Regions from separate parts of the Homo sapiens genome. Here regions 1, 2, 3, 4, 6 and 7 are each reported to be linked to region 5. Evidence: microRNA targets listed by miRTarBase, many of them from high-throughput screens and not tested one by one. Region 5 holds a microRNA gene; each other region holds the end of a gene's coding sequence.
Evidence for each region. The annotated mature microRNA hsa-miR-627-3p reads UCUUUUCUUUGAGACUCACU and lies in region 5 at 2,444-2,463, shown strand. An mRNA with a match to its seed (bases 2 to 7 or 8) in the 3' UTR can be bound and repressed. Matches are read on the target gene's strand: a 7mer-m8 pairs with bases 2 to 8, a 7mer-A1 pairs with bases 2 to 7 and ends in A, and an 8mer does both.

Region 1: the mRNA of IGSF10 is a reported target of hsa-miR-627-3p. The part of its 3' UTR that is shown has no 7-base or 8-base seed match.
Region 2: the mRNA of DSE is a reported target of hsa-miR-627-3p. Seed matches in the 3' UTR shown: 7mer-A1 at 3,397-3,403 and 7mer-A1 at 3,173-3,179.
Region 3: the mRNA of VN1R1 is a reported target of hsa-miR-627-3p. The part of its 3' UTR that is shown has no 7-base or 8-base seed match.
Region 4: the mRNA of KLHL14 is a reported target of hsa-miR-627-3p. Seed matches in the 3' UTR shown: 8mer at 2,853-2,860, 7mer-A1 at 2,531-2,537 and 7mer-m8 at 1,827-1,833.
Region 6: miRTarBase lists FAM13C as a target of hsa-miR-627-3p. Seed matches in the 3' UTR shown: 7mer-A1 at 919-925 and 7mer-A1 at 955-961.
Region 7: the mRNA of LVRN is a reported target of hsa-miR-627-3p. Seed matches in the 3' UTR shown: 7mer-A1 at 3,120-3,126 and 7mer-m8 at 3,037-3,043.

The regions. Positions count from the first base shown.
Region 1 is chr3:151,433,001-151,437,062 of GRCh38, reverse strand. IGSF10 (immunoglobulin superfamily member 10) reads left to right here. Exons shown (of 8, transcript NM_178822.5): 8 at 1-860. The coding sequence ends at 374. MED12L (mediator complex subunit 12L) reads right to left here. Exons shown (of 45, transcript NM_001393769.1): 45 at 410-4,062. Among named protein-coding and RNA genes, the nearest start is that of IGSF10, 26 kb to the left of the region's middle.
Region 2 is chr6:116,436,849-116,440,915 of GRCh38, reverse strand. It overlaps DSE (dermatan sulfate epimerase), which reads right to left. Exons shown (of 6, transcript NM_013352.4): 6 at 1-4,067. The coding sequence ends at 3,571. Among named protein-coding and RNA genes, the nearest start is that of CALHM6, 22 kb to the left of the region's middle.
Region 3 is chr19:57,451,960-57,456,029 of GRCh38, forward strand. VN1R1 (vomeronasal 1 receptor 1) reads right to left here. Exons shown (of 1, transcript NM_020633.4): 1 at 2,831-4,070. The coding sequence ends at 3,466. Among named protein-coding and RNA genes, the nearest start is that of VN1R1, 3.1 kb to the right of the region's middle.
Region 4 is chr18:32,671,194-32,675,263 of GRCh38, forward strand. It overlaps KLHL14 (kelch like family member 14), which reads right to left. Exons shown (of 9, transcript NM_020805.3): 9 at 1,480-3,604. The coding sequence ends at 3,464. Among named protein-coding and RNA genes, the nearest start is that of KLHL14, 100 kb to the right of the region's middle.
Region 5 is chr15:42,197,986-42,202,055 of GRCh38, reverse strand. MIR627 (microRNA 627) reads left to right here and starts at 2,390; the gene lies at 2,390-2,486. It overlaps VPS39 (VPS39 subunit of HOPS complex), which reads left to right. Exons shown (of 25, transcript NM_015289.5): 2 at 2,095-2,160.
Region 6 is chr10:59,244,093-59,248,162 of GRCh38, reverse strand. It overlaps FAM13C (family with sequence similarity 13 member C), which reads left to right. Exons shown (of 14, transcript NM_198215.4): 14 at 426-2,030. The coding sequence ends at 549. It overlaps PHYHIPL (phytanoyl-CoA 2-hydroxylase interacting protein like), which reads right to left. Exons shown (of 5, transcript NM_032439.4): 5 at 393-3,106. The coding sequence ends at 2,572. Among named protein-coding and RNA genes, the nearest start is that of PHYHIPL, 69 kb to the right of the region's middle.
Region 7 is chr5:116,025,599-116,029,667 of GRCh38, reverse strand. LVRN (laeverin) reads right to left here. Exons shown (of 20, transcript NM_173800.5): 20 at 2,062-3,690. The coding sequence ends at 3,550. Among named protein-coding and RNA genes, the nearest start is that of ARL14EPL, 4.8 kb to the left of the region's middle.

The sequences.
Region 1 (4,062 bases), not on the chromosome of region 5:
ACAGAGGAAACTATATCTGTAAGGCTCAAAATAGTGTTGGTCATACACTGATTACTGTTCCAGTAATGATTGTAGCCTACCCTCCCCGAATTACAAATCGTCCACCCAGGAGTATTGTCACCAGGACAGGGGCAGCCTTTCAGCTCCACTGTGTGGCCTTGGGAGTTCCCAAGCCAGAAATCACATGGGAGATGCCTGACCACTCCCTTCTCTCAACGGCAAGTAAAGAGAGGACACATGGAAGTGAGCAGCTTCACTTACAAGGTACCCTAGTCATTCAGAATCCCCAAACCTCCGATTCTGGGATATACAAATGCACAGCAAAGAACCCACTTGGTAGTGATTATGCAGCAACGTATATTCAAGTAATCTGACATGAAATAATAAAGTCAACAACATCTGGGCAGAATTTATTTTTTGGAAGAAGTTTAATCAAAGGCAGCCATAGGCATGTAAATGAATTTGAATACATTTACAGTATTAAATTTACAATGAACATGCAAAATAAAAGGACTTGTAAATAAATGCATTATGAACTGATGATACTGATTTATTTAATGGATCTCAAAACAAACTTTTAACTTAAGGCACTTTTATTTTGCCAACAAATAACAATAAACAAACATTGAAACGGTTCACTATAAAATAACAAATGGCTAATGTACCTGAATTTTTCAGTAAAAAAATGAACTTCTAATACCAGTTGCCTAGTGTCCACCTCCTATCAATGTTACAAGCATGGCACTCAGAACAGAGACAATGGAAAATATTAAATCTGCAATCTTTATGATGTAAATTTACCATCCTGATGTATAAATATTTTGTGGTTTATAAATTTTTTTGCTAAAACCTACAGAAAATAAGCACTGAACTGTCTTATGATTCACCATTTGTTCACACTGAAAATTTTCATTGATGGGGAATACAAAAATGTTTTAATAACTGCATTTAAAAATAAATGCAGGCTCACTTTTCCACATGTAAAAAGCAATGTAATACCTGCACATCATAAAATGTGAAAAGGGGGTTATTTTTGTCCAAATACACCCATTAAAAAGGTTTTAAAAATACAATGAAACTTCTTTATAACTTTAAAATCTAGCTCAGGCACCCCTGGTTTGGAGCTGTTTATAAGGAAATTTTTCTGAGCAGGAATCGTTGCTCTATAAGCATTTCATTTCATTAATTCTTTATGGGATGGGAAAATGCTTGGGAGGGTCTAGGTCTATTATATATAATGAAGTTTCACTGTATTTAAAATCTGATCAATCCTACACAAAATGTGTTTTTGTAATTCACTGAATTTATATTACATGCTTAATTCAACCTGAATTAATTTGGGGAATATTAAATGATTGATCTTATCTAAATCTAGGGGTGGGGTTTTCCAGTGTAATTTCTCCAGCATCTATTCAAACATTCACCTAGTACTTACTTAAGAATTATAGGAGCTTTATAAATGGGAAAAAAATGCCATAGGTCTTAGATATCTCAGTGCACAAAACCGAGAATTACTAATAAGTTAGCCCCTGCCAATCATTTGAGACATGTGGAATAGCGCCCTTGGGTTTTCATCACACTGACTTTCAGTTAGCCCCATCTCAGCCTAAAATGTGACCTGGTTGCAACTTATGTCTGATGTTAGTACCCTGTGGCTGGAAGTGGTCAAAGCTACGCATTGATCTCCTCTACTTCCAGGCCAAGAAGGGTAAATGCAATGACTGACAAATGCAACCCTATTAAGAAAAAGCCTACAGTGTAAACAAGAGAGTCTATGGGCTTCTTATATCCAAGAACTGTGATTGATTGATAGGTATAGCTGACTCCATTTGATTTCAAGGTCTTGTCTTTAAGGGGAGCTGGGGTCTCGCTCCATCTTATTCTAAGGTAATTTCCTCTGGTAAGGTAAAGTACCAGGTTCTGCCACAGGGCTTTACCTTGTGACCATCTTAATGCAAAAGAATGCATTTGCAAGAAAAGAAAAAAAAAAAAAAAAAAAAGAAACCTCTCAAGATACAGAATTAACAGGGAGAAAATCTGAAGACTAAAGTAATTCTAGTTATTTTCTTTATAATGCGCAGGGGTAAAACAGCATTCCTCAACTTTCAATAGAATCGTGGAATTAATTAGAGTCGTAGCATAACTTCCTCACCTAAAAAAAGAAAAAAGATATGCCCCACAGCTTTCATGTGCAAAATGATTAATAATTTAACTCACCTCTGCAAAGTATAAAGTGCATACAAATGCTATGCAATTATAACACTCATTCTTAAAACAGTATTACTGTTGTTTGCAATGCTGAGCTACAAAATATATGGTTCAAACTGAACTGGCAAAGAAATTTGGAAAGAAATAATGATGGAACATGACTCACTCACTAGGCACAACATTCACATTTCGGTTGATTTGCCAATGCAGTCATTATATAGATATATTACTTTGAAGAAAACAACTTCATTAGCTTATCTAAGTATGTTTCTTGAGAGGAAAAAATCTGATATACAAAACCAGCAAAAATGTGTACAGATAGATGATACATCTTCTGAAAGCAGATAGACTATTAATTTAGTGAAAAGAATAGTTTTTAATGTTTTGGCAAAGTCTTTTCCAGCCCAGAGTAAACACAAAATGGGCAGGCTGGAGTGAAATATTTTCACAGTGTACAAAGCAGTTCACATGGATGTTGCCACAGCAAAGTAAGCTGACATGTATTTGAGGTCATTTGCATGAGTCAAACTTTGCAATGAGTAACTCACCCAGGAAGATATAAATTATTTATAGATAATGATTTGCAAAAGAAAATGTCTACTAAAGTTGTACTAGCTACATTTTAAAAAAAGTAGATTTACATGGTCTGCTCATTATAGACAAGTCTATTCACAGTATGCTTGACTATATTATATGTAAAATCATATGGCAAAAGAAAATGAAATAACAGAGAACATGGGAAAATATCCCCCACATATGTTTTAAAATGCCCTGCAATTTTCACATTCAAAATTTTATGCATCTAAATCTAAAAAAATATTATATAGAATACTCTTAAGTTACACAAACTGATAATTTACTGGTTTCTTTTTTACTCTAATAGGAGCAAATTACCACATACTTGAACAAAGTTAAAATAGTTACTATTTCTTTATAATAAATTTGATGTATAATTTACTTGTGCTTTTTGCACCAATTTATAAATACAGTATATGCAATACACAACCAAGACTGACACTGACAGTAATAATTAAATTCAAAAGAGCAAATACTTACCATACAAAATAAACAGCAAATACACCTTTTATGAAAACCAGAGCCTTCTGGACTTTGGGGCCAGATTCTCTGGAAACCATGTCAAGTGTGAGCACTGGAATCTCAAGCCAGCTACTGGATTTTTTTTTCCCCTTAAGGTGGCATAAGGTTCAGGAGAACCAAAACTGGCAATAAATAGTTGGACGATTCCACTGCAGTTCTTTCAGGCCTTTAGGATTTACATGTTGTACCTTCACAATGACTCTCATCAATGATCTTGCCTCAAAACAAATTTGAGTACAGCTACTTCTAACAGGTTTCCGCACATCTTAGGGCGGCTCTCAAAGAAACCTTGGTTTAGGTTCTTGGTTTAAGAAGTTTAAGTACGAAGCAACAATCTGTTTCAGCACCTTTTGACCACAACAAAAGCAAAGAAGAGTCCTACATAAATAAGAACAAAGTTTATAAAGTGCTTATGAGATTACAAACATTTCAAATTAGAGCGATGCAAATAAATGTCCGTTTCACCATCACAGGTGAATGCAGAATAAACAGGCCATGTTTCTGTCAAGATCTGACATGCCTTTCAAATCAGTAGTTTGGTCCAGCACAGTTTGGAAAATAAAATTAAAAAAAAAAAAACAACGTCATCATTAATGAATGAAATACATAAATACCTTAGATCCATCATAATCCATTCTTTCTAGAAATGTGAGATTCAAAAAAAGCACCAATTTCAAAAGGTCTGCTAGCACACTCTTCCGGGAGTAGGCCTGCCTGCATGATTCACATTTGTAAACCTACTTTAAAGGTGAATTC
Region 2 (4,067 bases), not on the chromosome of region 5:
CCCCCTTGCTTGAGGCTTGCTTTCCTCATCTGTAGATTTAGGGGTCTCAATCAGGTCATCTCAAGTTCCCTAAACTTGCTTAAAAAGCATCAAACTTTGAGTTAGACCTTCAGACTTCCCTAACTCCTTTTTTCCTGAATTAAGCTATGACAAAGATGACCATATGTCCCAGTTCACCTAGTATAATCTCGATTTATATCTGTTGTCCTGGAATAACAATTAATTGCTCCTCCTTTAACTCTCAAAGGTATCTCCAGTCGGAAGATAAATTACATGCCCCTCATACCTATGACTATATTCATTTTAATCTTGGTTTAGATTTTTAAGAAAACACACTAATTTACTTTTAAGCCTACAAATATAGCATTTCATAGCTTGCTTTCTCTTAACACTTGGAGAAATTTCAGATTCTTTTGTGAGTGGTTTGTGAACTATCAAAAATTTTTTTAACTTGGCCGGGCATGATGACCTATGCCTCTAATCCCAGTACTTTGGAAGGCTGAGGCAGAAGAATCGCTTAAGATGGGAAGTTTGCGGCTGCAGTGAGCTACGATCACGCCACTACACTTCAGCCTGGGTGATGCAGAAAGGACCGTGTCTCTAGAAATAAAAATAATTTTTTAAAAACTGAGTAAGTCAAATGTAAATTTTCCTTTTCAAAAACAAATTATTCAGTATGCAAAACATTCTGTTAAGACATATTTTCTGATAACCTTAGAATACGTGGTACTTAAAAACTATGACTAAAATATTTGTGGAAGAATTCATTATCTTAGGTGATACATTTTAACAATTAAAATAGTTCCAGAACACGGTCTTCCACCTGACTTTGACGATTAAAACAATGTTGTCAAAAGAATGTTCTCTCTGAAAATTCTGGGTCTCATCCACCACCATAGGTCTCATCTACCATCAACTGAAATAAGCTAATCAGTTATAAACAAGGGAATATACTTAAAAAAAAAAAAAAGAGAGAAACACGGTCTCACTCTGTCTCCAAGGCTGGAGTGCAGTGGCACAGTCATAGCTCACTGCAGCACAGAACTCCTAAGCTCAGGCAATACTCCCACCTCAGCTTCCCAGGAATATACCACTTTTACTGCACTGACAAGCTCTGTATGCTAGTGATTCTCAAATTTTCTTTAAGGCTAGGACCAAGAGTCCTGCCAATCCCCTGAACAACAGCTCACATATTATCAAATGAACTTGAAACATTCCTGTCATAGTGAGCAGCATTGAAACAGATTCCATAACTGATTACTCAGTTTCAAGGGAGATTTAACATTGCTTTGTTTTCAAGTTACAAAAAGTTCCCTAGTTTTACTCAAATATGCACTATCCCTGATTAAAAAAAACATGTTTCATTATGAAGAGGGGTGATTTGTTTCAGCATTTTTTTTTTTCACTTAACCACTTAAGTCACTGCCTGAGGAAGTTTCTTTTTAAGGAAATAAATACCAGGTTCATTAGAAGAAAAAAAAAAAACACATAATTTTAATTCATTTTGTTTTAAAGATGCGTATTTTAAAAAGACTACTTTAAAATGAACTAATATGTTACACTGGATCATGCTGTGGCGACTAACGTATTGTCAAGCCTTAACCTAATGAAAACAAAAGAAAAGCGAGTTTGGCACTCACTTGCACTTTTCATCTCTGTTAGAAAGTATGTCTCAGTTTGGATCTGAGATCAGGTTTGCTTGGTAACCTCAAAGAATAATTTTCCTTTTTTTTTTCTTTCAAAATTTCCTTTTGATCATTTCAGACAGTTCATCCTTTTGAGTGAGAAAGAGTAAAAGAGAGGAATGTTGAGTGAGGTTAAGTAAATGGAGAATCTGTCACATAAAGCAAGTTTAAATCCTAGTAAGAGCATCCATGCAGGACAAACGGAAGCATTATTCTTTTGAAAACATTATTCTTTTAAACAGTGTGTAATGACATCCTCCCTAGAGACTTTCCATGAGAGGGGAAAAAAATTACTTCCTCAGAAGTCGTTTTCTAGATTCCAAGCATAATAAGTGAAGCACAGTTAAAAGTCAAACTTGTGTTTTCTTTATGCAAGAAGGTTCAAATTAGAACTGCAGAAAGGTACTTAAAAGTTTCTCTAGCTTGTCTTTTGGTTACATACTGGTATTGCTGTGAACTAAAAGAGCAAGTAAGAGGAAAGGTTACTGTTGTTACTTTACACCTATAAATCAGTGAGTGTGTCCTTACTGTAAAATTTGAGCTGAACATATTTTGTTTCAAAGGAGAAATATATGACTCAAATATGCTGAATGTATGATAATTTATTAAGTTCCTTTTAAGTATATCATTTTCTTATGCTCAAGTAGAAACTATGGATTATTTTTCTAGTATTCTATGCTGCTGTTACCTTCTGAGGAGTTGATTGAAAATTTTATGCTTTTAAAAGTTGGGTGCTACTTAAATATCAGAATTGGCTATTGTTTTAAATATTTAAAATATGCTTAAACAACAATTAAGGTTAATAAGCAGAGAAAATACTTCTTTTGATTCAAACACTACTTTATATATTTAATGAATACACGTCCAAATAAAGATCTCTCTTCAAAAATTTTGGAAAATGTTAATGCATTTTGAATATAATGGAACAAAGAAGAAGAATACTAGAGAAAATTCACAATTATGATGTTTATTTAGGAAAATAAACTTGAAGAAGGTTTTCTATTAAAAAAACATAAGAATCATATCCAAATTTTAGACTCTCCATCTTCTTTGGTATGAAAATCAACATTCATAATAGAAAATATTTTCTTTTGAAAGGTTTAGTTGTTATTGGGTCTATAACGGTTTTCCATATAAGGAAAATACAGTATTATCTGTAATCATCTCACTTATTGAACAACCAATGAATGCATGCAAGTAACCAAGCATATGTGTGCAGAGACCAGCATCAAGGAAATATTCATTCATAGATAAATGTTTTCTAATAAAATATATTTTAAGTTTTTAATGATCTTCTGCTATCATTTTTTGCCATGTTATCTGAATAGCCATCCAGATCTGTAGTAAAACATCCTGTTAGTTACATAACTCAAGAAGTACTTCCCCAAGGAAGCTCACACCATCATACCAGGACTTAGCAACATTTATCTTTCAACATGAGTATACCATTAAAATTTTTTTATATTTCTCAGAATTGTATTCTTCAGTCTTTTCCACAATATAGTATATGGAAATTGCTAATAGCATTAAATTAATATTAATAAAACCCAATTCTATCTAAACCTTTTTCTCATAAGAAAAAACATTACTTTAAAAAATAGACTTTTTGTTTCTTCTAAAAGTAGTACTATATGGACTGCTCAATTAGCAATGCCAAATACTTCCAAAAACACCATAGGACCACCAAGCTATTTCTATTGCTTTGATAATTTCTTTTCCTGCTCCAATTTCTCCACGTTCCTGCTTTCTTGTGTCAAAATATCTTCCCTTAATTTGTTAAAATGAATCTGAGGGAAAAAAATCTGATAATCTGGGGTAAAGAAATTTTTTTTTTTGCATAGACTCTTGTGATCACAAAATGACCAGGTAATTTATAGCTTCAGTGCTAACACTGTGATTGGGAACAAGAAGAGTACAACCATAATAAAATACAGCTATCTATGAGAAGAACTGCATAAAGACATCTTTGGCCATGTAGGCTCTGGGCCCTCTGGAAATAAGTCAGTTGCATTGCCAACATGACAAAGAAAATAGCAATGTTCAGAATCAGGAACAACCTGGTATAGGAAGCAGACAGTGATGGGGCCCTGCTGTGTGTAGTTGTCACCATCCGTGCCTGTCCAAACCGGCCTTTAATCAAGCCCCCATTTTTATGTTTCTCGTATGTTACATCTGCAAAATCTAAAAGGTCTTTCATTTCTTCATCTTCATCTATGGGTAGTTCTTTCTGTGCCAAAATCTGAGCTTTCTGTCTAATCTTTTTCTCATTGACTTCAATCTGTGCAAAAATATCAGGGACAGCATCCACAAATTTATAGCGTTTGCCTGCCCTTCGGTTTTTCTTTGACTTGCTTTGCTGCTGCTGTTGCTGTGATATGGCAA
Region 3 (4,070 bases), not on the chromosome of region 5:
CCATAGCAAGCAGTTTGGGAACCATAGTCTGTACAGAAACAGTGATTGTATTAATATGAAGTATGAGACACCAGCAAACTAGAGTGGAATGGATGAGCGCCTTGTAAAGAGACATCCATGAATGTTTCAGTAACTATGGCTATGTGAGATGAGGGTATACAGAAACTCTGAGGACCTACAGACGTGTGTATCTCCTGTAGGCAAAGTCATTGTCAGAGCAAGTAATCCAAAGGTGTTATGGATTCTTGTGTCTCTGGCGTTATAAAACGTATGTTGAATTTTAATTGCCATTTTAACAGTGTGGAGAAATGGGACCTTTAAGAGGTGATTAGGTCATGATGGCTCTGCCCTTATAAAGGAATCAATGCCTTTATCATAAGAGTGGGTTTGTTAACCCGAGAGTGACGTTTTTATAAAATCAGCTGTCTCTGTCTTTCATGCTCACTTGCCCTTCTGTCATATTATGACAGAGTAACAAGGCCCTCACCAGATGCCAAGCAGATACCAGTGCCATACCCTTGGACTTCCCAGCCTCCAGAACTGTATGAAACAAACTACTTTATAAATTACGCAATCTGTGGTGTTTTGCTATAGTAGTGGAAGACAGACACAGACATAAAGCCTGTTAATTCAAACCACTACTGCACAGGTAGGAGCCTCATGACTGAATGAAGGGAGATTCTATACTTCTGAGATAAGTCTTTTTTTTTTTTAAACCTAAACATAATTCCTGGTGACTCAGGTGGACATAACCTTCCTTGTCTCCAGTTCTTCTTCCCCGAGATTCTGAATTTCCAACAACATTGCTTCCAGTTTTTGATACTATAAAATCAGAGTTGACCCACGTAAGACATGAGGAGAGGCTAATGATGGAATCAACACAGCTTTGCCAGAGGTTATAAAAGAGGATTGAGAAATCCAGATTTTATTTGGAATTTTTCTTTTCTAACAGCTTTATTGAGGTATTAGTGACATTCAGTTGCACATTGTTAAAGTGTAAAATATATAAAAACAATCACCAAAGTCATGATAATAAACATATCCATTGCCTCAATAGTTTGTTTGTACCCTTTTCTATTCTCTCTCGCTCACAGTCCTACCCAAATTTTTATGCTCAGGTAGCCACTGGTTTACTTTATGTCACTATATACATCTTTCCTTCCTTCCTTCCTCCCTCCCTCCTGCTCTTTTCTTTTTCCTTTTTTCTTTTCTTTTTTCTTTGTTTCTTTCCCTCCCTCCTTCTCTTCTCCTCTCCTCTCCTCCTCTCCTCCTCCTCTCCTCTCCTCTCTTCTCTTCTTTCTCTTTCTCAGAATTTCACTCTTGTTGCCCAGGCTGGAGTGCAATGGCACGATCTCAGCTCACCGCAACCTCCACCTTCTGGGTTCAAGCGATTCTCCTGCCTCAGCCTCCTGAGTAGCTAGGATTACAGGCATGCGCCACCACGCCTGGCTAATTTTGTATTTTTAGTAGAGACGGGGGTTTCTCCATGTTGGCCAGGCTGGTCTCGAACGCCTGACCTCAAGTGATCCACCTGCCTTGGCCTCCCAAAGTGTTGGGATTACAGGCGTGAGCCACCATGCCCGGCCTATAAATTTTCTAGTATCTTATACAAATGAAATCCTACATTACATTCATATGGAGCATTTTTTGATATTTATACATGTTAAGCGTATTCATTTTTTGTTGATGAAGAGTATTGCATTGAATATACCACAATTTATTAATCTATTAATAAATATTTTGATTGTTTCTAGTGTTGGACTAAAAAACTAACAAAGACCCATGAACATTCATATACAAGTGTTTATATGAATATATTTAGCAGAATTGCATTTGTTATACCTCCTTGTCCATGATGGTTATGGTGTATTTTAAAGATTAACCATTTTCATAGATGTGTTGTGGTCAGTGTGGTTTTTAAATTTGCATTTCTCTAATAATTAATGATGCTGAATAAGTTTTTATATGCTTATTTGTTATCTGTATATTTGGCCAAATTTCTAAATCTTTTCCCTTTTTTTAAAAAAAAATCTTATTTTTCTATTTTAATAGAGTTTTAATTTTAGAACATTTTAAGATGTACAGAGAAATTGCAAATATAGTACAGAGATATCTCATTTACAAGCACACCTAGTTGTTACTAATATATAGTCATATATTAGTATACAGCATTATTTACAATTAGTGAAACAGTTTTGATACATTATTAAACTAAAGTACATCTTTGATTGAGATTTCCTCAGTTTTTACCAAAATACATGTTCTGTTCCAGAATTCCACCTAGGATACCACATTGCATTTATTTTATTATTTTTTATTCTTTTATTTATTTTTTTTCATGTGTCTCTAAATGTAACCACATTACAGTTAGTACTCACATTTCTTTAGGCTTGTCTTGCTTATGAGAATACTCATTTATTTTGATATTGATTTTTAATTTTTTTTTTTTTAGATAGTCTTGCTCTATTGTCCAGGCTGGAGTGCAGAAGCACTTTCTTTCTTTCTTTTTTTTTTTTTTTTTTGAGACGGCGTCTTGCCCTGTCTCCCAGGCTGGAGTGCAGTGGTGGGATCTCGACTCACTGCAACCTCTGCCTACTGGGTTCAAGGATTCTCCTGCCTCAGTCTCCTGAGTAGCTGGGATTACAGGCACCTGCCACCATGTCTGGCTAATTTTTGTATTTTTAATAGAGATGGGGTTTCACCATGTTGGCCAGGCTGGTCTTGAACTCCTGACTTCAAGTGATCTGCCCACCTCAGCCTCTCAAAGTGCTGGGGTTACCGGCGTGACCCACGGTGCCCAGCCACTTTTAGTTATTTTTATTTTTATTTTGAGTCTCCCTCCGTCACCCAAGCTGGTAAGTAATTCTCGTGCTTCACCCTCTGGAGTAGCTGGGACTACAGGTGTGTGCCACATGGTTGGCTAATTTTTGTATTTGAGACAGGGTTTTTGCCATGTTGGCCAGGCTGGTCTCGAACTCCTGGCCTCAAGTCATCTTGAGTGGATCACTTGAGGCATTTGGGAGTGCCTCAGCCTCCCAAAACGGTGGGATTACAGGCGTGAGCCACTGTGCCCGGCCTGCACATGTCTTTCTTACATGTGGACTCTCCAGGGGATTTATGCTGTTCAAGAAGCACCTGAATCAAACTGTGCTTTAAAAATATTTTTAAAACATTCCATGATTCTTCATAGTACAAAAATGAGAAATCTCCCCTAAATCTCTAAAGAATTCCCTTTTTAAACTTTTTGATTTCCTGAACTTGTCTGAAGGACTTAACACAGTTATATAGAGTGTTCTTTGTGTAACAGTATCCATGACTTTCATTTTTAGCTCTGGTATTAGATCTTCCTGGACAAGAGCATTACTGGCCATGTGTATGTTGCTATCACAAATAACTAGTAGTTAATATTTCCTAAATCTTAGCAAGAGTTATGATAAATAGCTGAATTCCATGAAGAGAAAAGACTCATGGCATGACAACCAGATTAGGAAAGAGTGTTTTCCTTGTCCTGCAGGCAAAACAGAACTGAGAGATATGAGTATCACTCATGATGAGGACAAAAGGGCTGCGTGCTGGGAAACATGAGGCGACCAACACAGAGTTGGTCACTATCCACTGGCCTGGGTTTGCAACTACAGTTGTCCAAATTGTCAGAAAACTATGGACTGAATAGAAAACAAAAAAGGAGCTCACCAGGACCATGATGGTGTGTGTGGCTCTGGCTTCCTGGGAAGGTCTGCAGGAGAGTCTGTTGCTGTGATTGTGTTGGACTTGCTGCTTGTGTCTGTAGAGGAAGAAGACCATGGAGCCACTGGCCCAGACCATGAAGCCCAAACTCATAAAATCAGGGGAAAAATATAAGACTGCATGTAATGAGCTAAATCTCTTTGATGCTTTGTAAGAACAGTATCCATAATTGTTTTTTGCACTACTGTTTTTGCTATTCAGTGGGCCATTCACTAATAGAAGAACAGATGCATTCATCAAGACATGGGGGGCCCAGCAGAGGAGACAACAGAAGTCAATAAACCTTGGGGATCTAATCTTGATCTCCATCCACCTGCATATAC
Region 4 (4,070 bases), not on the chromosome of region 5:
GACCCTTCTGCTGCTTCTTATTGGCATAATATTTTCCACTAAAGTTTTAATATCCTCAAGGTTAGGTGCTTCTAGAAAGTCAGGCATGATCAGTCATGATCGGTCCTTTCTGTGAGAACTCAGTCTATCAAGGTACTCATCAATGTGTATTAGTTGGCTTTGGTGTGCTTTACTACTCTTGTTTTAGCTTATTTATTTGTTTTTAAAAACTATTTTGACCTAAAGAATTAAGTTTAATCAGAAGTCAGGCATTTATAATGATGCTCTTTGGGATATTCAATGAATACTTGATACTTACCATGTTGATAATGATGATAGTTTGTTAAGTGATATAAGTGTCAAGCAGCTGGGAAAATATGACTTTGGCTGAATAGGGTAGAACAAATGCAGACACTAATTTCAAGCTCACAGACACAGCTTAATTAATTTTAAAAATCTGGTCTGTATATGCATTCTTCCAGTTTTAGTCAGTTTTAAGATGTATTCTTAGAAAAAATATCTTTTTTTGTCCCCTCAGTATATTTCCACTTTACCCAAAATTCCTTCAAGTATTAACTAACTAAATATAAAACATGAAAGTACAGTCTAGCGAGGGACATCAAGTAGGTGGCTTATTGGGATTAGGAAAAAGATAAGCATGCCTTCTTAACATCTCATGATATTTAGTCAGCACTGGAGCCTTGGGTATTTCAGGGGATTTGGAGAAGCCCTTCAGCAACTAGCCATTGGCTCAGGAGAAGGGTCTTCTTTCAGTGTGCTACTCTAGTATGTGGAGGAGAAGATCCAATGGAAGGAGAAAGAAACTCCATTACTCTTTCTTGTGGAATATTAGGGAGAATCAAAATATCCTCTAATTTTGAGTTTAATCATCACTAATGATAGATTTGGCTGGGAAGCATTAAAGTAAATTCCCCCCAGCTTACAGGCTTCCGAACGTAGCTCCTGATCTTACACAGCTCTTTGCCTGGAAGGCTGCCCAACTGCTACCCTTAACTGCAAGCCTTAGTTCCCCCTATGTCTCCCATAGCCCCTCTAATTGCCCTGTACAACTACTTCATCAGATCTTCAAAAGAGAATAAAATTAAATACTATGTATTTGATAATTGATTTAATTAAATGTGTGACTCACTTATTCTTTAAAAAGGGTGCAGTTATTTTTAACACAAATGGTGCTTCTAATAATGTGTATAAATATTTAGTTATTTGATCTCAGATAAGTTATGTCTTATTATAACACTCTTGTAGTGAAAACATCAGATTCCACTCATATGATTTTTAACTCACAGCATTTTCCAGAAGTATTCCATAATTTTAGCACTGTCCATACTGTATACATTTACATATTGTGAGAAAGCCAAATAACACTTGTAAATCACAGCTTCAGAACAAAAATATTTAGGCATTTACATATCACAAACCTTCAAACGGTTTAATGTAGAGATTTATACATATGTAAGTAGGATATGAGAGACAGTTGAATTAGTACATAAAGTTTTTATTTAAAGTTTTCCCCTTCCAAGCAAGCTTCATTTACACATTCTAATACTGTACAAAATTTACATTCTCTGTGACTTATTTATTCACTTTTCACTTTCTAGTAACTTATGTCTCTCTGAAATACAGAAAGCTTTACTTATAATTCTCATAAATGCTTTTATTTTGGTGAGAAATAAAAAATAAAATGCAGAACAAGTCTAAGGAAAGCAAAGGTTCTTGTACAAATTGTGACTTTTGGAAGAAACAGTGACAGTTGACAACAAAAGGTTCTGAAGCAGACCTCATTCTATTCATGATGTCAGCTGAGATTTTCCCACAGAGTACTGTAACTTTTCTTTCTATATACTCATATGTTTTAAGGAAAAAGAAATGACAGTTGATTGCACTGGATATACATATATTTATATATATATATTTTTACAACGGATCCTTTGGATCTGAACATACAAATAAATACAAAAACAACGAAGATTGCACTTTACTGTAGAAACGGCATCGGATTCCAGTATACCCATTTATCTTGACGTGCTCTGCCATGAAAGCTTATCACTAAGGCATTTTTCATCTGTGGGATTTCCCTAATTACTGTTTTGAATGACACATTTGTTGAAGGATTCAACACCATCTCTGGATGGTTAAAATATATTTTAGGCTTTTATTTACTCCTAAAGTTGTTGTTCAAGCTCTGGAGGGCTTGAAAATCGAATGTGCATTCCTGTCAGTTTTGTCCTTTTGGTTGGCCACATTGAGACTATCTCATGCTATCCTGACCTTCTGCTCCTGAATTCCTCATGCTCCTCAAGACAACTAGCAATTGCTCGCTTAACTGAGTTCAGGCATCTCTGGTGATAACAAACAAAATATGATGAATTGGGGGAATAACGATCGTAAGTCAAGTGTCTAGAGGCACCCGAAGGTGAGGAAGAGGAGAAGTATTCTGTCAGGTGCTATAATTGGCTCCTGTGGCTCTTGTAAGTTCTGTGTTTTAGAAACAGAAAGACAACTGGAATTCTACTTAATGGAAATTATTCTTTCTTTTCATCCCTGAATTCCTGAAAACAATCTCCCATTTTTTTTTATTATGGATTAAATTTGGGTCAGACATATCATCTAACAGAATCTCTAAAATAGTATTGACTGAATTTGTCAATCCTGTCTTTTGAAGTAAATAACATGTGTGTTCACTACTTATATATCACAAAATATGAAAAAGCACAAACCTCCATGAACTGAATAGTGACATAATATATTTTGTTTTAATCTTTCAGATAAAATTGAGGACACAGAAATGACGACTCTGTCTAGCCTAGAACCTATAGGGTAGAAAGCATTTATTACAAGAGCCAACATCTTTCTCTTTTCTGATCCCATGAGGTGCTGTAAGGGCAGAAGGTGTATGAAATGAAGTTGTATAGAAACGAAAATGCCTCTCTTTAATCTTACATGATTTTCAATAACAGTGTTGCCAATGGAGTCTGTGAAGTAGCCAAAGGTTAAGAGTACAGAATCAAGTGGCAATTTCTGTAATGCAGTGTATTTTGGTGGCTCAAATTTGGAATCATTCTTGAACACAATATCCCCGAAATGTCAACATAGATCACATGCAGGTAGACTACAATGCACAATACTGATCTGAGGTCTCTCTGGGGCCAGTCTTCTGTATTTTATCTTTCTCCTTTTGCAAGTTAAGATTCACATGAAGAGTTTTTGTAAAGCTGGGATAAGTTAAAACCAGTCTGAAATGGAAGAGTCTGTCACCACAGGAAGTTTGGTGCGATCTGAGTTATAGACATAGTATCTGTTCAAGAACAGGTCTCTTTCTTTTGTAGTTACTTATAAATCATCAGAAACCAAGGGTGGGTTTTGGCAGTTGTACCATTAGAATGCATTGTTCCTATTATAATAGTGATGTCACCTGCCATTGCTTCCTAGAATGTGATACTGTTCATTCCAGAGTTTCCTGGTGTTATTTGTTGTATGGTACACAAGAGGGCAGAATAACTGTCACACAGGCAGGGCCTGCCAACGGTTCTGCTACATCTCCTTCGAGTTCTGTCCAGGTTCCTTTCTCTGGACAATAGCATATTGTAGATGACTTGTAGGCCCCCTGTAATGACAGAGGAGGGAGCATTTAGAGAAGGAAGCTAGAGAAGTGCAATGGCAATGTTACTGATCATATTTATTAATATATTGAAAAGAAAATATCTGTTCTCCATTCTTGCTAAATAATTCCAAATGAAAGCAATGGATTTTAAACTGTTCTATTCCAAAGAAAAAGCTAAGATTGACAAAATTTCAAAAAAAATTTTTTTGTGTGTGTGACTAATAATAAAAGTTAAATAAATACCTAGAGGATCCTAGATGCTCAACAAATCCTAAATTGGCTGGGCCCAGTGGCTCATACCTGTAATCACAGAGCTTTGGCAGCTAGGGCGAGAGGATCACTTGAGCCCAGGGGTTTGAGACCAGCCTGGGCAACATAGCAAGACCTCATCTTTACACACACACTAAAAAAGATAAAAACAAATTGGGCATGATAGTGCACATCTGTAGTCCCAGCTGCTTGGGAGGCT
Region 5 (4,070 bases):
TTGCCACATGTGTGACTCTGGAAAAGTTATATATTCCCTAGGCCTCAACTTCCTCATCTATAAAATGGGGATTTGAAAAAAGGACTTACTTCAAGGGATAGTTGTGAGGATTAGTGAAATAACAGATGCGTTTAGCATTTCCTGGAACACAATACATGCTCAATAAAAGTTATCTATTTGTACCATTATCCAAGATTTTATTTTACAGAGGTCAAGAATCAAGAGAGTTTATGAAAGGAATGAGTGACCTTTATGTTATCAAAAAGCTAAGGAAGTATCTGTACATGCTTACCTTCCTTGAATGATGTAATATGGGTCTGTCAGGGTAATTATTTAAACTCTTTCTGAGCCTCTTTTTACCTAGACCAGTGCCTCCCAAAATGTGGTCCTTGAACCACCAGCATCAGCATCATCTGGGAAGTTGTTAGAAATGAAAATTCCTGGGCCTACTTTTAAACCTACTAAATCAGATGCTCCGGGGTAGAGCCTAGCATTCTGTATTTTAACAAACTCTCAAATAATTGTGATACACTAAAGTTTAAGAACCACTAGCCTAGACCATCTTTTAAAATGTACAATTTGGCTGGGCACAGTCGCTCACCCCTGTAATCCCAACACTTTGGGAAGCTGAAGGGGCATTGCTTGCGGTCAAGAGTTGGAGACCAGATTGGGCAATATTGTGAGCCCTCATCTCTATAAACATTTTTTAAAAAATAGCTGAACGTGGTGGTGCATGCCTGTATTTCTCGCCACTCAGGAGGCTGAGGTGGGAGGATCACTTGAGCTAGGGAGGTGGAGGCTGCAATGAGCCATGATCACACCACTGCTCTCTAGCCTGGGCAACAGAGTAGAACCCTATCTTAAAAAAATAAAAGTTAAAAAAAAGTGTACAATTAAATGGTTTTTAGTACATTCACAGAGTTATGCAACTATCAGCACAATAAATTTTAGAACATATTCATCACTTTCAGAAGAAACTCAGTACCCATTAGTATTTACTTTCTATTTTCCCCCAAGCCCACCAGCCCTGGGCAACCGCTAATCTTTCTACCTCTGTGGATTTGCCTACTCTGGACATTTCATATAAATGGAATCACGTGGCCTTTTGTCTGGCTTCCTTCAGTTAGCATCATGTTTTTAGGTTCATCTGTGTTGTAGCATATATCCATACTTCCTTTCTTTTCATTGTTAGCTAATATTCCGTTATATAGACATGCCACATTTTGTTTATCCGTTCATCAGTTGGTGGACATTTGGTTTGTTTCCATCTTTTAGCTATTACAGATAATACTGCTGTGAACATTTGTGTACAAGTTTTTGTGTAGAATATGTTTTCATTTCTGTTGGGTGTGTAACCAGGAGTGGAATTGCTGGGTCCCAGGGTAACTCTGTTTAGCCTTTTGAGGAGCTGCTAGACTTTTCCAAAGTGGCTCTCCCATTTTACATTCCTGCCAGCAGTGTATGAGGATTCTAATTTCTTTATATTCTCATCAACACTTGTTATTAAATATTTTCTACTAGACTATCTTTTGAGATAATGAATTCTGTAAGCTTATTATGTTACGTCATTTATTTTCCTGAAAGTAAAAGCATTTAAAGGATGCCTCTTAGCTATTATTGCTGAGGTTGGATACCTGGTTTCACATTTGTACTTCCATTTTGTGATTTTATAAACTTTCATCATATTCTTTTTAGCAGAATTTAAAAATATATATCTGAAGATATATATCTTAATAAAAGTATATATAACAAAAAATAAAAATCATAATAATTTAATCTTAAAAATACAAAGCCCTTCTATCTTTTTTATTAGTTTAACATTAAAACAATTGAGCCAGGACATTTTTATCCTCTGATATGTCTAGCCTAGTAATTATTCAATAAATGTGTTTTTAAATGGTTGATTTTCAAACATGAGTATAAACATTTCTTAGCTTTGCAAAACACCTCCTATCAAAAGCAACTCATTTTCTTGACACATTGATTTCTGATTACAAGCCCCAGCTAAAAAAATAGGGTTATACTCAAGCTGATTGACCTTTCTCAAAGCTGGTTTTTTTTTGTTTTTGTTTTTGTTTTGTTTTGTTTTTCCAGAGGAATGGCTTCTTGTGGGAACCAAACAAGGACATCTTCTTCTCTATAGGATTCGGAAGGACGTTGGTAAGTGCACATTGCTCATGCAAAAAAATAAGTTTTAATAGTCAGCTAGTATACAACTGTGAAATCAGTTATTCCTGGACCATTAAAAGAGAGATTGAAGGTTAGAGGGAGCACGGTGGGAAAATGGGGAGAAGACTTGAGAATGCCTAGGGTTTTTCTCCTCCAAATTGTATTGCCCTACCTGCATTTGGGAGGTGAGGATGAATTGCTGGTTTACTTATTACTGAATTACTTATTACTGGTAGTGAGTCTCTAAGAAAAGAGGAGGTGGTTGTTTTCCTCCTCTTTTCTTTGAGACTCACTACCAATAATAAGAAATACTACTAATGGGCATAAGCTTCCTGTATATATGGTGTGGTGGTAGGAAAAAAAATTAGGCAACATCGATTTAAAATATCTTGTTGGCTTATGAGGGGTAGAACAAGAAGAGAGGACCAGGGTTTGCCTTCATGTGCACTTCCCCCTGGCTGCGTGACCGTGAGCAAGTTCTTTCCAACATCAGTTTTCTATAAACTCTCTGCCCCACAAAGTTGTTGGGGTGGATGCAATAATAGGCTCGAAGAAACTGTGAAAACTAAAGTTCTAATCAAATGTGACTGTCAGTAATGTAGAGTAATAACTAAAGTATTTGAAATGTATTCTGTTAAAGAGTGTTTTTTATTGGGGCAGAAAGTACCTCACTGCCCTTCCTTGTTTTCGTTTCTGTGCTCTCTTTATGGAGAATAGATGTGTTTAGGTATTATGCCCTGGAGCCACTCTACAGAAATCTGCAGTTAATTTCATACCCTTCAATATAATATATATTTCTCTGGTAAATAGCTTAAGAGATAGCTTAAGATAAATAGAGCTCTCTTGTGGAACCTGGAGCAAGGGTAACACTGGGGGAAAAAGCACCTTACTAGTGCACTCGGGAAAGAGAAGATATCCTGGTCAGTTTCTGCAGCAGGGTAAGAAAAGAAACCAGAGAACAAAATAGATAATTTATTTCATTTCTAAGTTTTTCAACTGTCCTCTAAATCAGGGTCAGCAAACTTGTTCTGAAAAGGTCCAAAGAATAAATATTTTAGGCTTTGCAGTGTTGTTACTACTTAACTCTGCCTTTGTAACATGAAAGCAGCTGTAGGCAATATGTAATGAATAGGTATGGCTATGTTCCAATAAAACTTTATTTACAAAAACATGCAAAGGCCTCAGTTAGGCCCTGGAGCAGTACATTGTTGATCTTTGTTTTAATGTTTTAAATTTTTAATTCTCATGGCCTGTGAAGTGGCTCATGCCTATAATCCCAGCACTTTGGGAGACTGAAGTAGGAGGAATGATTGAGGCCAGGAGTTCGAGGCCAGCCTGGGCAACATGGCAACACCCTGTCTACAAAAAATTAGCTGGATGTGGTGGCACGTGCTTATAATTCCAGCTGCTCTGGAGGCTGAGGTGAGAGGATCGCTTGAGCCCAGGAGGTTGAGGCTGCAGTGAGCTATGATCACACCATTGCTCTCCAGCCTCAGCAACAGACTTTGTCTCAAAAAAAAATTTCTTTTTTTAGTTCTCGGAGCCAAAATATTTGCGTTCTGTGATATTTGCCTGGTCTATAATTTTAAAATTAAGCTCACATTTTAATTTTAAAGCTAAAAATGCTTATCTTATTCAGCATTCAACAATTGTTTTTTGACTCTCTGCTTTGCTTTCACATGTAAGTGGTGATCAGAAATTGAAAACAAGACTTTATAAATGAAGTCTCAACACAGTATAGACCTGAACTGGTAATATTAGTGTTAATCTGGCTTGGAACCCTGGTGGCGACTATTCCTTGCCCTATGATCATTTTATCATGTCACCTTTGACAAATTAGTTAATGTTCCTGGGCCTTGGTTTCGCCATAGGTAGATTAAATATAGACAATTAGGAAATCA
Region 6 (4,070 bases), not on the chromosome of region 5:
TTCCTGTAGTATTTTCAGGTTAATATTTTTAACAACTGTATTAGGGCTGATCATTTTGTACAGCTGTAGGGGTGTGGCAAATAATGGAAGAATGACTGGACAAAGAATGCCTTGAAAGTTCTGTTTCTTGTTTGTTTGCTTCTCCTTAGATCTTTTCACTGACCCCTTTGTTGTAAGTCTAAGCACTAGACCACATATTTGCAAAACACTTATGACATTCAAGTTTTCAAAGGTTACTATTATTTAGAAACTTAGTAACACATGGAAGAAGGAGTGAATGAAGGTGAAAGGGAAGGAAAAGAAGACATGATGCAAAAACCAAGTGGAGGCCGTTACAGTATACTTTCTCATGTATGAATTATAAAAGAATGTTTAAATAATGACTTGATTCATTGTGAACTAACAAATGTATTTTTGTTTTGCAGAAGTCCACAAAAGGAAGATAGGATACCAATGGCAGATGAGTATTATGAATATAAGCACATAAAAGCCAAACTGAGACTATTAGAGGTCCTCATCAGCAAGCAAGATGTGGCCAAAACTATTTGAGGTTCAGGAAATGTTATGATCACTTTCACCCATGATATAAAGTAAAGTTTATTTTCCTCTGCCATCCTTGCTAAGTAGTTTTGACACAATGAAAATGGAAGCACTTTAGTGGTAGTATTAGCTGTTTTTAAGAAGGAATAGCAAGTTTAATTATATACAAGGAGAAGGGATTTAAACGGGGGGAAGAATACAACAGGTAGCCATATAATTGGGAAAAAATTCAGTGTCCTCCATGCCAAGCAGAAAACTCATAGTCAATACAAGTATTTTTAAAAATGTCTAATATTTTATCAAATCTAAATAACATAGCTAGGACACTTGTTAGGGAAAGTTTATTTAGTATCCAAAGACTGTTTATGTTGATGTATGGAAAAGAGCATGATTTTAAAAAATCAATCATAGGAGGAAAAGAAATTCGCTTTTCAAGTAGGAAGGAATACAGCTAGCAAGAAAGCAATTTATTTGAAACTTCTAATGGATTTTTGAGTGATAAAACATTTACTACCTTGTCCTTTAAGTCTGCTAGGCTCTCAGTACCCTAAAATAAACTAGATTGTGTTGCTATTTTTTTCTTTCTCTATAAAAATAACACATTATTTTATCCGTTATTTGAAATTTTACATTTCTGGTTACCAAAGTTCATTCTGATAGCATGTACTTTGTGAATTATTATCTTTGTCTATAACTGACAGATGTTTATATTAAAATAAAATATTGTATTAAAAATTTAAAATAGGTATTTTGGATAGATATGTGTCTGTAGTATATAATCTAATGTGTCCATAGTATTATTGCTAATCTTTTGGTTTACTATAAGATGATATAACTATTTTTTCATTGGGAATATACATTTTTCTTAATGTTCCAACATCTATACTTTGTAAAGTCAAAACATTTCCCATGAGCTGTAGTTATTCATCCTTCTGTACAAAATGAAAAGTTTGGAAATTGTTTGCCCTGATACCTTGAAAAAGAAGCCAGAATATTTATTTGCTTCATCAACTTCAGTGTATATCATTTTGTGTTATTTTATACGAAAACATGTTTATTATTTTCATTTTTGTAAAAGGAAGTAAAAGGTCAACATTTTCTCTCATGTACCAACCTTGTTTGTATTTCTATTTTCTGTAATGTTTAAGTATGATGTTGAAGAAATTCACATTCTCTTATAGTTTGGATGGGAAGACTATTGACTATTTCAGAAACAGACTTATTTCAGAGGCTTATTGTTTTCTCTGTATTTACCTAATATTTTATAACTTTTATGAATCAGAATAATGTCCTTCATAAATTTGTTTAATTGAAGTCATCTACTTCTAACAGGACAGATACACAACTATTTGAGGTTTACAAATTACATCTTTGATAAGGGAAATGGTTTCGTGACATGTACACAGTTGCTATTAAAATGTAACTCTATATATTCTATATGATTGTAAATATTTTATACAACAATACAAATAAAATATTTTTCTATTATATTTATTATGTTGAAACACAGTAGTTGTTTCCTGTTAGCTAATATAAATAACATAAATAACACTGTCAAACAAGAAGTTGGAAGTGCTGACAATTCTAGGCTTCAAGATTTAACTCATGCTGCAATTACACCCTTTCATGCGGTTTGGAGTTATCCCAATATTTGTTCAGTAGATTAAAATGAATGCATATTTAAACACCATTTATAAGCCATTATTGTGTACTTTGCTAAAGCAGTCTATATAACTGTTTTGTTATGTTTGGCATAAAGGAAACATAAAAACATTGCAGCATCTAGGCAATAAAGTGTCAAAAGGAGAACTTAACTTAGGGTATTTCATCATTGAAAGTAGTGGGAGGGGTAGGGAATAGGAAAACACTAAAATGGTTCTGAATGAAATTTGGAAAGTGGTAGTTGTTTGTTTTGGTGACAGTGGCATGTGCATGCTTCAGTGGAAAACATCTGGTGATAAAAATGGACAACAGAGGACCAATGCTCCTAAGGGAGGAAAAGGGGCTGAGTAAGAATAAGAAAAGTGGGCATTAACGTCCAACACTGATATTACAGGTTTTGCAGCTGGGATCTTTCTTTGCATTTGCAGTAGACAAACTCATGAGCTGATGACCAGTGATTTCTGCCACGGTGCCCACAGAAAGATCCACAGGGTCAGTGTAAATGACTTCTAAAATGACATCCTGGGCATGGTGGTAAACCAGCACCCCATCTTCTTCTGTACAGGTCAAAAATTTATTATCCTTAGAATTTAGTTGAGGAAGGCGCTGCTTACAAAATTCATCTCCTGGTGATCCCACAGGAGCAATAACAAGAATCACATAATGATAAGCAGTGTACATACAGTAGAAGTCCCCAAAGTATAAGTTAGTATTGGGGTTAAAAAGTTTTTCTGCGGCAATCTCAAACCTGTATCTTCCATAAGGTGAATCCTGGGGTGGCTTTCCAGTATTGAATTCAGTGCTGCAGCTGAAGAAGATGCCTTCTAATTTTCCACTGATAGGAGAGCCATGGCTACCACTGTTATCCTTGACAGATGGCTGCATAGCATTCCCATGATGTTCTCTGCAAGAGAAAACAAGTGGTCACTGCTTAATACAATAGTGGTAAACCCACTGATTTATATATTTGAATGGCCTAAAAGTCAAACATCTACTGTTAAAGGCCTGAATACCTCTCTTACTATCAGAATAAGGGGACAACATCTTTTGACATATTACCTATAGATGGCTGTATTCTAGCTTTGACCTTAAGGTAAGGATGAGCTGCTACAAGCCTTGGAGACTTTGTATTAAATTAACATAATAATGTAAATTTCCTGGCCAGAAAAATCAAACTGGAATTAGAAACCTTACAGGTAAAATCACACATACATTAAGTGCCAACTGGGTTTCAGAAGTGGCTTTCTGAAGAGAAAACTGAACTAAAGGTATTGGTTAAATATATTGAATGTTTCTTTAAAGCATGATAGATTTAGTCATAAAATGAGTGCTGTCCATTTATACTGGCACAAAAGCGTTGTGTTTTGTTTTGGCTTTTTTTTTTTTTTTTTTTTTTTTGAGACAGAGTCTCACTCTGTTGCCAGGCTGGAGAGCAGTGGCACGATCTTGGCTCACTGCAACCTCTGCCTCCCAGGTTCAAGCAATTCTCCTGCCTCAGCCTTCAGAGTGGCTGGGACTACAGGCATATGCCACCATGCCCAGCTAATTTTTGTACTTTTACTACAGACGGGGTTTCACCACGTTGGCCAGGATGGTTTGATCTCTTGACCTTGTGATCCGCCCACCTCGGCCTCCCAAAGTGCTGGGATTACAGGCATGAGCCACCACGCTCAGCCCTTGTTTTGGCTTTTTAACCCAAGGACAGTAATCAGGTTATTTCTCTGGCATTTTGCTTAAAACAGTGCTAGTTATTCCCACTTTACCTCACCCCCAAATCCATTCATTCTCCACCACAGTCCTCCACTGTGACCTGGGACTCTAGCATTCAGTTCCTTATCCCTTGGCCACTTCCATTTCAGTTCTACCAA
Region 7 (4,069 bases), not on the chromosome of region 5:
TTCAACTACCCATTCTGGGTTACACAACCCCCATTAGATACTCTTCTCACCCTATCTGGGCTCTAAGTCACCGTGTCATAACTCCCTTCGCCACCGTGTGGTAACCTTATTCACCCTGTCTGGGTTCTGATATCCCACTGTGATCTCCCCTCCTCTGTGTGGATTCTTTCTTCACCCCATTCAAACTCTTAAGCCCACTTCAGGTCATGGGCCACCATGGCTCCCCCTCAATTCCCACTGGTTCAGATGCCACCTTGCTCTATTTCACCTCTAGGACTGACTTATTTATGAAGGGAAGGGAAGAGGAAGAGTCCAAATAACTCCTAAATATATGTGTTGTACAGATTACCTTTGCTAAATCTTGTTGAATTAGAAGAATGAGCCAAAGGCAACATATGTATGGTTTCAAATGCTGCTAACTGTGCTAAATCATTCTTTGTGTGGGGGAGGCAGTTATATTTACTTGTAAGCATCCCCTAAGGCTTTGCTTTGAACATGGTAATCCTGCTAGAGTTTGGATGAGAAAAAGACAGCTTTTATTGGAGCAAAGAATGGATTAAACAGGAAAAGTAACTAAGACGAGCTACCTTTTAAATCTCATCTCACTTTGCTTCTTCATGCCTTCCCCAGAATAAATTGCTATACAGATTGGTCCCAGGGATCTAAATTACAAAAAATGCTGAACATCACACTAAGACATCTGTTCTTCCATTTAAAATCAACAATGGCAAGTCACTGAATGGGGTTGGGCAAAAAAAAAAAGCATAAGATTGTGAGAAAAAATTTAATTTCGAATTATGAAATTGGAAAAAATCATGACTATATTGTATATTTTGTTAATTATTTTCAAGATGAAAGGTATACAATAAATGGACTGGGTCAGGGAAATCATTTTATAGTTGGGGTGCTAACAGATAAGCTGTTTTTATTGGTTAATAAAGTATTTATGCCACACAGAAAATCAGCCTCGGTACCACTCCCTGACTTGTTACTGCATTATTGCTATCACAGAAACCAATCAACAATTACTTGTTTTTATAGTTTGTATAAGGTAAAGCATAATAAAATGCAGTGCTTAAGTAGCCAGCTTCATCCAAGTAAGTAAAAATGGTATATCATCCATTTTTTCCCCATATTTAGAGGAAAGACTATTAATTAAATATTTGGGAATTTGATTTTGGAGAAACGCCTTCAGCACTATTTAATTACTACAGAAGCTAAGATGTAATAGGATTCAGTTTAACTTTTAACAGTCTGGAGAGACCAGCCTACATGCTCTTTTGGCAAGATCAGTAGTTCTTGGCATCACCCAATACCAGGCATCAGAGCCTTCTTGACACTGAGTGTCAGCCTCAAAGCACGCTTGGTGGACTGAGAGCATGGTTGGGTAGGAAGATCAAGGAGCAAGGATAAGAACAACCAGGCAGAAGTAAGGCAGAGATTACTGGAAAGAGGAGAAAGGAGAAAAGGGGAGAAGGGAAGAGGCAGCTTGATAGAGAAAGAACGGGAGTGGAAACAGAGGAGAGAGCTATGTATGGCTTGAATGTGTCCCTCCAAGGTCATGTGTTGGAAACTTAATCCTCAATGCAATGTTGAGAGGTGGGACTTTTAAGAGGTGATTAGGTCATGAAGGTTCTGCCTTCATGAATAGATTAGTGCTGTTATCATGGGAGTTGGCTAGTTGTCTTGGGAGAGGGTTCCTGATAAAAAAGATGAGTTCAGTCCTCTTCCCTCTTCTTTCTCTTGCCCTCTTGCCTTGTACCATGGGATGATACAGCAGGAAGGCCCTAGTGAGATGCAGGCCCCTCGACCTTGGAATCTCCAGCCTTCAGAATGGTAAGAAACTCATCTCTGTTCTTCATAAATTACCCAGTCTAAGGTATTCTATGACAGCAGCACAAAATGGACTAAGACACAGAAGAAGAAGAGGAAGAGAAAAGCAGTTGAGAGGACAAGTGAAGACAAAGTTATTGAAAGATGAGATTCATTATCAGAGGAAATATGGGAAATATAGAATGAGTGTTTAAGAAAAAAAACAGGAAGGTATCTCAGCTACAACACTTTGTAGGCATGCAGATATTTTATTGCTGAAAATTTACATTTCTACATTTGAAGAAAAAATTCTCTGACCTATGACCTGTGGCCAAGTCTGAGTAGCCTGTGCTTTCGTTTGTCCACGTGGTGAAGTCCCACAGCCTCCCCTGACACTCAGGGAGAATCCTCTTGTGAATCAAATACAAAAGCAAACGTTTGTTTTGTATTTTCATTTATGGCTGCCTTAACTTATACAAGAAATAGGCAAAAAGTCTTAATCACATTGCTTTGAGCGTATGTAACATCTTTAAAGACTGTTAATTGATGTCATACTCCTTAATCTTTAAAAATATCACCCTGAGGAGGAGATTTGTAGTTTTACCCCCATTCTACAAAAATAAAAATAAAAGATTAAATCATATACACAAAGTCTAGAAGAGGAATGATTAGCTTTAGTTGTCTTGTTTTAATCAAGCATGAGAAAACTAAGCTAATTCCATACATTGGGACTGATGAAAATGTGTAAAGTAAGTTGGTCCACATTACAAGTAGGTTCAATTTGGCCAAAAGACACTATGTTTCAAACTTAATCCCCTGAGTGCAAAACTGTAAGGATTATGCTCCAGTTAGCCTTTTAGTTCTGTTTCTTTCATTTCAAGATTCCTTTTGCCCTAAATAGTAGCCTATACTTGCTATTGTCTTTTGACATCATTGTTTTCACTCGTACGCTTAGGCTGAAAGGGTGTCCATCCCACTGGTGAATACACAATTAAGAGCTTCAGAGCAGAGCCTTCATCTCCACTATGGCCTCCACCACAGCAAGCCTAAGTGCACTTCCATGGATCCTACAATCATTTGTCTTTTTGTGACACCATAAAGTTTAGTAACCAGCAACACGTGGTTCAATGCAGGATGTACTGTGGGAGAGAGAAATGGGCAGGAGAAGACACACTTCTTGCCTTTAGGGCTCGTTAAATTGTCTCCTCTTTCTTTTTCAACTTGCTTTTCTTTGGCTCCACTGTCTTCTAGTGAATATACTTTTTGAGTTTCTGTCTTTTTATATTGTCATGTTATCTTCTCATTAGTCTTTTCAATCTTCAATGTTGAACTAAATAAACCCTAGGGCCTGGAAAAACTGTTATTTCCCTCAGCAAAGAATGTGCTCCTCATTAATGCCATTGATTTTTATATTCCACTGGCCTTCGCAACAAAATAAGCAAGACTATCTTAGGTGAATTTGTTTTTACGTGACATTTAAAGTAAATTCTGTGGGATTATAACCCAACATGAAGTGACATCTTTCCCAGAAATACAGCAGCATTGGCAAAATTGTCAGCAATCACCCACCCTCAGGGCCAAACATGACAATATGAGAAGAATGGCACTCTGAGTAATAAATGTGACTGAAATACAAATAAAATGTGTGGTTTTCCAGACTCACAAAGTATTGGAAGACAAAACTGTGAACAAACTACATTATAATATGCAAGAGGAGTGCTGAAAGATAGCCACAAGCTATGTGTTTCTCCTTAGCCACGCAGCTATCCTGGCACTTAGCTTCTTGTTTTTCAGATTTTCATTCTTTATTGTCTGTAAGTTGGCATGAACTCTGATCCTCTGGTGTTCCTCCAACATGTTACTGAAAAACTGCTGCAGCTGGAAGGACAGAGAGACAGATGATCAGTGCAATCCAACTTCCCATTTGGACAAAGTAAATGTCTAAATGCTAAGTAGCAACATGAGTTTGTAAATTGGTGATGATGGTTGGAATGAGTAGAAATGTATACTCCTAGGTTGTGTGTCCCTGGGGAGACTGTGACTGAGACAATGTGATGAACACCACACCTACCCCAAAGAAGCAGATGTAGACAGGAAGGTGCATGAAGCAGAAACTATGCCTTATTCCCAAAGCACATATTGAGTCTCAATGAATATTTACTGAACGCATATAGAGTGTTCTCTAAGATTTGCAGACAGAGATACAGTGAACCCCCCCAATTTTTTAAAAATCTCAAAAGAAACTGCAACTTCCGAA